Regions from separate parts of the Homo sapiens genome. Here region 2 is linked to region 1. A link means that fine-mapping ties the variant in region 1 to the expression of a gene that starts in the linked region. Tissue or cell type: whole blood. Region 1 holds a variant in brackets; the other region holds the start of a gene. All regions are shown on one strand. Distances are from middle to middle.

What was found.
Region 2: PLEKHO1 starts here. The variant in region 1 is fine-mapped to the expression of PLEKHO1 in whole blood (TOPMed, PIP above 0.99).

What each region holds. Positions count from the first base shown.
Region 1 is chr1:150,178,375-150,182,760 of GRCh38, forward strand. It overlaps LINC02988 (long intergenic non-protein coding RNA 2988), which reads left to right. Exons shown (of 4, transcript NR_135098.1): 4 at 2,538-2,854. Among named protein-coding and RNA genes, the nearest start is that of LINC02988, 20 kb to the left of the region's middle. The variant G/A (reference allele first, on the strand shown) is at 2,329.
Region 2 is chr1:150,148,030-150,152,415 of GRCh38, forward strand. PLEKHO1 (pleckstrin homology domain containing O1) reads left to right here and starts at 1,887. Exons shown (of 6, transcript NM_016274.6): 1 at 1,887-2,258; 2 at 2,883-3,029. The coding sequence starts at 2,229. RefSeq lists silencers at 1,515-1,974, 2,115-2,194 and an enhancer at 1,827-2,327.

The DNA of each region.
Region 1 (4,386 bases):
GCAGAGGTTGCAGTGAGCCGAGATCACGCCACTGCACTCCAGCCTGAGAAATACAGCGAGACCCTGTCTCAAAAAAAAAAAAAAAAAAAAGGAGACTAGTTTAAATAAATAATGAGAGCACACATTCAAACAATGGACTATTAAAAGAACAAAGTAGACAGGACATGGTGGCTCACACCTGTAATCCCAGTGCTCTGGGAGGCCAATGCAGGAGGATCACTTGAGGCCAGGGTTTGAGACCAGCCTGGGCAACATAGGGAGAGCCCATCTCTATAAAAAATTTAAAAATTAGATGGGCATGGTGGCACACTCCTGTAGTTATAGCTACTTGGAGGCAGGAGCAGGAGGAAGTCTGGGGTTACAGTGAGCTATGATTGCACCACTGCAATCCAGCCTGAGCAATAGACCAAGGCCCTGTCTCTTTAGAAACAAACCAAAAATAGATATAGCAAGACTGCCAAAATATAATGTTAAGTGAATTAGTAAAGGGAAGAGCAAGGTGTATAGTATGTTCCAATTTTTATAAAAAATAAATATTAAACATAGGCTTACAGTGGCACAAAAAGCTCTAGAATACACAAGAACTGTTAAGAATGGCTGACTCTGGTTAAGGAGACACTTTTCATTGTATTCCTTTAGTGCTGTTTGAATTTTACCATGGCATATATTACTAATTCAATTCAAACAAAACAAAAACAACTTTAACTAAACATGTTTTTCTACCAAAAGCTTTACTTGTCCACCCTACTTCCTAAGTATCTCCCAAATCTGATTACCACCCCCTTCCCACTGCCTCTGCCCCAGCCCAACTACAGGAGTGGACTGTGCTTTGCTCCTGAATTCCATAATCTCAAGGGGCATGTTTCCTTTAAAACATAATTGTTTAAAAAAAAAAAACACCTGGTTATCCAGACCATTTGGTTAAATTGAAAACTATCAAAAGGCATATTACCAGTCACACCTGGCTGTATCCTGCATTACAGAGCTGTTTGAAGGTCAATTTTGAGTTGTTTGCCCTGAGTGCCAACATTGCTACTCATGGTTTTGCCTCTACAGTTTCAGGCCATCAACCCCTCTCTCTCCAACGACTGCAACAGTCTTCTAATTAGTGTCACTAACTCTACTGTTTCTTATGCCCACACTGCAATTAGAGTGATCTAAAATTTTAAATCTGGCTTGGCGCAGTGGCTCACGCCTGTAATCCCAACACTTTAGGAAGCCGAGGCGGGCATATCACCTGAGGTCAGGAGTTTGAGACCAGCCTGGCCAACATGATGAAACCCTGTCTCTATTAAAAATACGGAAAAAAAAAGAAAAAGAAAAAATTAGCCAGGCATGGTGGTAGGCACCTGTAATCCCAGCTACTCGGGAGGCTGAAGCAGGAGAATTGCTTGAACCTGGGAGGCAGAGGTTGCAGTGAACCCAGATCATGCCATAGCACTCCAGCCTGGGCAACAAGAGCAAGACTCCATATCAAAAAAAAAAAAATTAAAATTTTAAATCTGATATTTATAGTCCCCACTGCCCTTGAGTTAGAGTCCACCTTCTTTAACACGGTTTACAGGGCCTCTGTGATCCTAGTCGCTTCTTTCTTTGGCCTTGTCCTTCCTCTCCATTCCCCTTATAGACACCTCAGGGCTGCCCCATGCTCTAAACTCCAGCCACACTGCACATTGGTGAACTTTATGCGCTGAATCAGCATTGCTGTCTCTGGTCTCTAACACTCATACCTGCTGTTTGCTCTTTAGGGATCCCCCCTACTCCACAGCTTGACGGCAGAGCAGTGACCAGAATATATGCTCAGGAAGGCCAAAGAGATGAAGCCGCAGCTGCCTCTTTTTTTTTTTTGAGACAGTCTCATTCTGTTGCCCGGGCTGGAGTGCAGTGGTGCGATCTCGGCTCACTGTAACCTCCACCTCCCAGGTTCAAGCAATTCTCGTACCTCAGCCTCCCAGGTAGCTGGAACTATACAGGTGTACCATCACACCCGGCTAATTATTTTTTGTCTTTTTTTGTAGAGATGGGGTTTCGCCATGTTGGTCAGGCTGGTCTCGAACTCCTGGCCTCAGGTGATCCACGCACCTCCGCCTCCCAAAGTCCTGGGATTAGAGGCGTGAGCCACCGTGCCCAGCCAGGCTTGCTTCTCTGAGCCATACCCTTCTGTTGGAACAAGCATCCTTTCTATTAAAAGCAATAAATCTCCTCTTATTTAAGTGGCAGATGGTTTAGATTGTTACTTTTGCTTTCAGCGATCCTCTAGAAAAAGAAGGAACTTTAAGGTTGAGAACTAACTTCTAGCAGCTATGCAGAAGTTCTGAGAGGTGACTC[G/A]TGTTTTTTACATCAAGACCTCCACAAAGGCCCCTTCTGTCATTGAGTCAAAGTTCTAGCGACCTAGGTTCATCCTCAAATGTGTAATGAAAACCTGTAAATCACTTGGACTCCACTTCCCCTCCCACCCTGGGTCCTCCACCCCACCTTGCTTTGGTTTTGCTTGGGGAGAAAGTGGTCTCTACACAATATGTCTCTCTCCCTATCAGTCTGCAGGATGCTCAGCAGGGGCACTCCCTGAACACGCCTGCTCCCACAGCATGTGCAAAGGCTTCACACTTGGATTGAGGGTTATACATTTCTTCATGGACATCCCCAAACAACACAGAACAGAGACAAGGTTTCTGGTCCTTTTGGAATGTCCACACCATTCCCATTCTTCAAAATCTGTCACACTTCCAGATAGTTCCAGTGAACAATGAACTCTCCCCCTATGCAGTAACAGTTGATTATTCAATTTAACACTGAATTATATATTCTCTGGAACTGTTCTCTAACAACTATGAGGCGTTTTCAACGGTAGTTGAATGGAAAAATACCAAACTGGGAGTAAAAAGATCTGGCTTCCAGGCCAGGCGCGGTGGCTCATGCATGTAATCCCAGTACTTTGGGAGGCTGAGGCGGGCGGATCACCTGAGCTCAAGAGTTCGAGACCAGCCTGGACAACATGGTGAAACCCTGTCTCTACTAAAAATAGAAAAATTAGTCAAGCGTCATGGTGGGCGCCTGTAATCCCAGCTGCTCGGGAGACTGAGGCATGAGAATCGCCTGCACCTGGGAGGCGGAGGTTGCAGTGAGCCGAGATCGGGCCATTGCACTCCAGCCTGAGCGACAGAGCAAGACTCCGTCTCAAAAAAAAAAAAAAAAGATCTGGCCTCTCAAGAGGCCGCCACTAACTCTCTGTGTAACCTTGAGCAAGCCAATGTTCTGGGCCTTGGTGCTTCCTGCAGGGTAAGAGGAGGACTGCCGATCTCTAAGGATCTTCCGTGGTCTATGGGTTTATGACTCGAAACTCCTCAAAGTGCAGAAACACAAGCCACATCCCTTCTCAAGGCCAGACACATACTAGGAGCTCTATTAATACCTGAATAAAAACCACGGATGAAGAGCTTGCCTGGCCCTGGCATTTCTATACCAAACCAACACACCATGGATCATTGTATCTTCCCTGGGACAGACCCTCAGAGCCTACAAGTGACTCTACAACTTCACTGATACAGATCTATTATTCCTTAGCTTAGACTTCCATCTCTCCAGATCAACCTTCAGGAAAACTAGGAAACTATCAATAATGATTTCAATTGTCGGCTTCAAATTCACCTTATTTCTTCTACCCCAGCATGCCTTTTTTGTGGCAGCACTTAGATTCTCATTCAGAAAACAAACGCATTCATGCCGTACCAGTGATTTGTTGGGGAAACTGCCTCGGCCCCACCACCCAGATCCCCCACGTTCCTACCAAGTAAGCCAAGTGACCATGTGAAGAACTGACTGACACCCAGAGGAAACTAATAAACAAAAACAAATAAAAGCAAATACCTTTTCAGGAATCTCACTTGGAAAACCAAGTATAATGGCAAAAACAACCAAAAAAAAAAACCCGAATGTTTTCAGCGTTGGGGATGTTGGGGGTGTAGACATCTCGAGAGCTGGTTTCCGAAGGCACCGCACCCCAGACAATGTGCTACAAGAGCCTCCCGGCTGCTGTGTCAATGAAGCCTTTCAGGCCCTCCACACTGCTTCACTTGTTCCCTAAAGTAGTGCTTTCTGGAAGCTAAACTCTCAGCTGGCGAGAACAGTGAACTCTGTGCCATTTGTCTATCAACTCCTTTAAAAAGAAAAACCTCCTGTACGGCTCTCTTGTTTTGCATTTTCTATTCTGCACTCCAGTACGCATAACGACACACAGAAGAGGCAAGGGCCTCTTTTAAAACCGTGAAGAAAGAATAAATTTGAAAGCACCCAGAAGCCTCTGCTTTCAGCTATTAGAGAAAAGTTTGCATCCCATAGAAACCAGTACTAATTAAAAAAAAAAAAACTCAGTCCTCAACCCTGGGA
Region 2 (4,386 bases), 30 kb before region 1:
TTTTGCATCCTCACATATGAAGACACCCTGGATTTGCTCATTATTTTTTCATCGCTCTTTAAACAGGGGGTTAGAAAATAGAGACGGTGGAAAGGGGACAAGATGGTTTGGGGAACGTGGTGTGTGCACACTCATGCCCATGGGAGGGGGTTACAAAATCTGAAGAGGAGACTGCAGTCAGGAAGCCTGGATTCTAATCCATTTAGCCAGTAACTTGATGTATAAACTTGGGCAAGTCAGTTTATCTGGCATGCCCTGTTTCCTCATTTTCCAAATGGAAATATTAATACTCTATATACCTTACAAGGTGGCATTAAAAGTGTAAAGAAATGACATATAAGAGCATTTTGAAAGGATAAAGTTCTGTGTCAGTCTAAAATCGTGGAATTAATTGGTATGGTGAATGGAAAGAAGTTGAGAGGAATATCATTGGATTAGGAGGAAAGGTGGAACTGGAAAAGAGAGGGAGCCCCTCCTTCATTTGACAGACACCAGAAAAAGTCAAAAGAGCCTCCACTATTCAAACCACAAATCTAGCCAACACTTTTATCTTGAGACATCTCTGGAAAAATGATTTTTCCTTTTCCCTGCTCCTCAGTGCCAGGGATTTTTATTCATTTTGTGGTTACTGCATGCTTGCCATATGCCAGGCAATGTGTTTATTAGCTTATTATGATTTCAAAATTAGCCCTGGAAGACAACACATATCTTCAAAGGACTCTCAGAGGTCATCTCATATCTTCCCCTAGCTTTCCTTGTTGATAAAAATGGCAGTTCATCCCTCACCACTTAATACGTGGAGGGACGCGGGCCTAAAGAAATTCAGTGACTTGACCAAAGCCCAGAGTGGTGATGAAACCAGTACCCAAGCGCGGGGTTTCTCACTCCCCTTTTCCATCACACGTATATATATTAAAAAGACATGAAGTTACTAAGATGTGTCCTGGAGGCTCTGAGGCAGATCTGCTGTAGGAGGGATCAGCAGAGGCTTCTCTAGTCAGGGCATTCTCTGGGCGTTCAGCCCTTCCCTCCACTGGGCTCCAGCGCTGTAGAGAGGGTGGGGTTTTTACCTATCAGTATAGCGGGAAAAGATACCCAGGTGGCAGGAAGTTTAAGCCTCACCTGGAACTTATATTGAAAGCCACTTGGTAGAAAGGATAATGGTTTGGAGACAGAGTTCTATTCCTGCCAGCATTGACACTGTGTCTGAAAAGCCAGCATCGACACTGTGTCTGCAAATCCCTCAGCTATTCTGAGTCTCCGTTTTCTCCCTGTGAGATGGAGATCATAAAATCCGCCTCATCCTTAGGATTATTCTCCTGAAGCTACAATAAGGCCTGAGGCATTGTACGCTGGAAGAAACGTGTATTAATAGCAACTTCTGTCCCACCCCATCCCCCAACACGTCGATCCCCTCCGGAGCATAAAACTTTCCCCCAGCATCTGACCTGCCCAGGCCACCCTAGCACCTAGGAGCGTGAATTCCTGATGCGGGTTGTGGGTGGCGCGCCCTCCCGGTTCCCGCTCTCGTTTTTGTTTTTGGTCGGGTAAGGCGATGCTGTAGAGGCTGGCGATCTCCAGTCTTCACGAATCCGCACGTCTCTCCATTATCCACCGCGCCCGCCCACTGGGCCCCGGGGCGGCCGGCGGCCGGGTCTCTCGGGCTCCGCGTGTCGCCCGAGCCGCCGCCGGAGCGAGGGTCCCTGCCCCCTGGGGAGCGGTCTCCAGCCGCTTCGAAGCCGCCTTCTTCCCCCTCCGTGAGTCAGAAACAAAGGCGGGGGGGCGGGGGGAGCGCCCGAGCTGCGGCTCCGCGATTCGCCCTTTATTCTGAACTCGCAACGTCAGCGGCCCGCGGATGGAGCTGCGGGGTGCGGACTGGGCCGCCCACAGCGCACCGGGCCGGGGGAGCGGCCGCGCTGGGCCGGGCGGGCGGGTGGCGGGGGTGCGCTCGGGGACCCGGGCCGCGTGGGCGCCGGGATGGAGGGCGCCAAGGGGCGGGGAGCGGGCGTGCGTGTGTGTGCGAGTGCGAATGCGAGGGAGGCCGGCCTTGAGTGAAACCGGAGCTACAAAGAAGGGGAGAGTCCGGGAGCGGGAGGGCGCGAGGGAGGAGCGGCGGCGCCGGGGCAGCTCCGACGCCCTCCCGCGGGGAAGGAGCCCCCGCGGTGCCGCCGAGGCCCCGACGCGGGGCCGCCCCTCGGCTCGCCGCCCCGCGCCCGCGCCCGCTGGGAATGATGAAGAAGAACAATTCCGCCAAGCGGGTGAGTGCGCTTGCCCGCCCTGCGGCCGCCGCCGCCTCCGCGCTCTGACGACCCCCGCTCCGTCGGCGCCGCGGCGGCCTGGGAGACCCACGGCCCGGCCGCGCCCCCGCCCCGGCGGCCCGGTCCCCTCGGCCTCGGCCCCGCCAGGCGCCCGCGGGGGCTTTTGTTTGTTTACTCGCCTCGGGGGGCTTCAACTTGGCTGAGTTTCCCCACGACCCGCACCTCCCCCGCCCCCGGGCGCCGGGCGAGCGTTTGCCTCGCGCTCCGCCGTGGCGAGGAGACAATGGGAGAGAAAACCAGAGAAACGCCGTTAGTCCCCGCGCGGCGAGGACGGGGCGGCGGGGGCGCAGGGCCTGGAGGGAACCTGGGAGCCTCTCCGCGCCCGGCCGGCGCCCCTGCCACTTGCAGCCCCGGTTGTTTATTCGGGAGCGGGGGAGGGGAGCGGGGGGAGTTCCTCGGAGTGAAAACCTTTCCGAAGTGGGAGCGAACCTGGGGCGGCCCCCCGCCCCCCGGCCGCAGCCTTCGGAGGAGACTGGGCCGCCGAGGCGGTCGTGAGAGACGGACGGAGAGGAAGCGCCGGCTGGAATCTCCTAACCGCCCGCTTCTCATCTTGTCCTGGGGCAGGGACCTCAGGATGGAAACCAGCAGCCTGCACCGCCCGAGAAGGTCGGCTGGGTCCGGAAATTCTGCGGGAAAGGGATTTTCAGGGAGATTTGGAAAAACCGCTATGTGGTGCTGAAAGGGGACCAGCTCTACATCTCTGAGAAGGAGGTGGGTGCCTCTTGCCTCTAACTCTCCGTTTTCTCATAGCCCCCACTTTGTCACTCCCCAAGGGCTCGCCTAGCTTACTCCACCCCCGTTTTGTTCCAAAGGCAAGTTCAGTGGTCTCCTCTCTACCCCCATCTCATCTGCAGAGAAAGGCCACCCTTTAATGAGAAGACCAGAGTGAGAATTAGAAGTTGAGTTGGCCGCTTACTCAGTGTTTTTTTGTTTGCAAATACCTTTCTAACAACGATAAGCCCCTCCCAAGATGCCCCAGAAGTTCTAAGTGTCCCTTGCTGCCTCCCACCCTAACCTGGCCTCCTGCATATAGGATTTCTTTTCTATTTCTGCTGAAACAGTTTAGCCTATTCGCCACCCCTTCCTGTCCCCCCACCTTAACCCAGCCAGCCTCCCCTTTCCTGTCTGTGGCAGGAGCGTGCACAGGTCCTGTCCGTGGCGCATCCGCCCTGAATCACAGAAAACACGCACCCCGCCGTCAGGCCCCTGTGACCTCGGGTGTGTGAGTGGCAGTTATTTTCGTTGAAGCCAGTGTCCCTAACCAGTATGCTCTCTGTTCCCCACCCCCACCCCATTTAAAAAAGGCAAGGAACCCATTTTCTACCCACTTCCTGCCCACCCCTCCATTTGTATCAGAAGGGAGAGAAATGGAGTTAAGAACCCCTGTATGTCTTTGGATAGCTTTGGCTGTGTAGTTAACCATGAAAACCACAGTCTACACTGTGTCAAGACCTGAGCTATGATAATTGAATCCAGACCCATCTCCCTTTTTTCCCTAAGTCTTGGGATCAATAACGTGTACTAATGTGGAGAAATCAGAATTGCCCCTACAGTGGTTAGAAGTCATTCCATTCCCTGCCTCTGTGACTGTCCAAAGGCAGTCAGTATAGCCTGGAAGACTGTCCTGTGTACCGGTTAGAGTGGCCCTTCCTCCCGCCCTCACGGGAGGTATTCTGTGTTCCCTCACCCAGGGCTAACTGGGAAGTCCTCCCTGAGTTCTAACCTCTTCTGCTTTCTGCAGTAGACATCCTTATTCAGTAGATTATATTTAGGTAAATAAAACCTTTTATGGTATTGAAACATACACACACACACCCTGAGACAAAGTACTCATCTAAAAGAACATCTACTGAGGCATCTAGGGAAGAACTAAGCTGTGCCACAGCCAAAGAGATCCCTCTTAAGGGTATTGAAACCTAGCTGTTTACACAAAACTAGCAAGTTGGTGATGGAAAGTCTTAGGAGTGAGGTGAGGGCACTTTTCTTGGTCTGTCATCCAGGCAGGAATGCAGTGGCTCAATCACAGCTCACTTCAGCTTCCACCTCCCAGGCTCAAGTGATCCTCCCA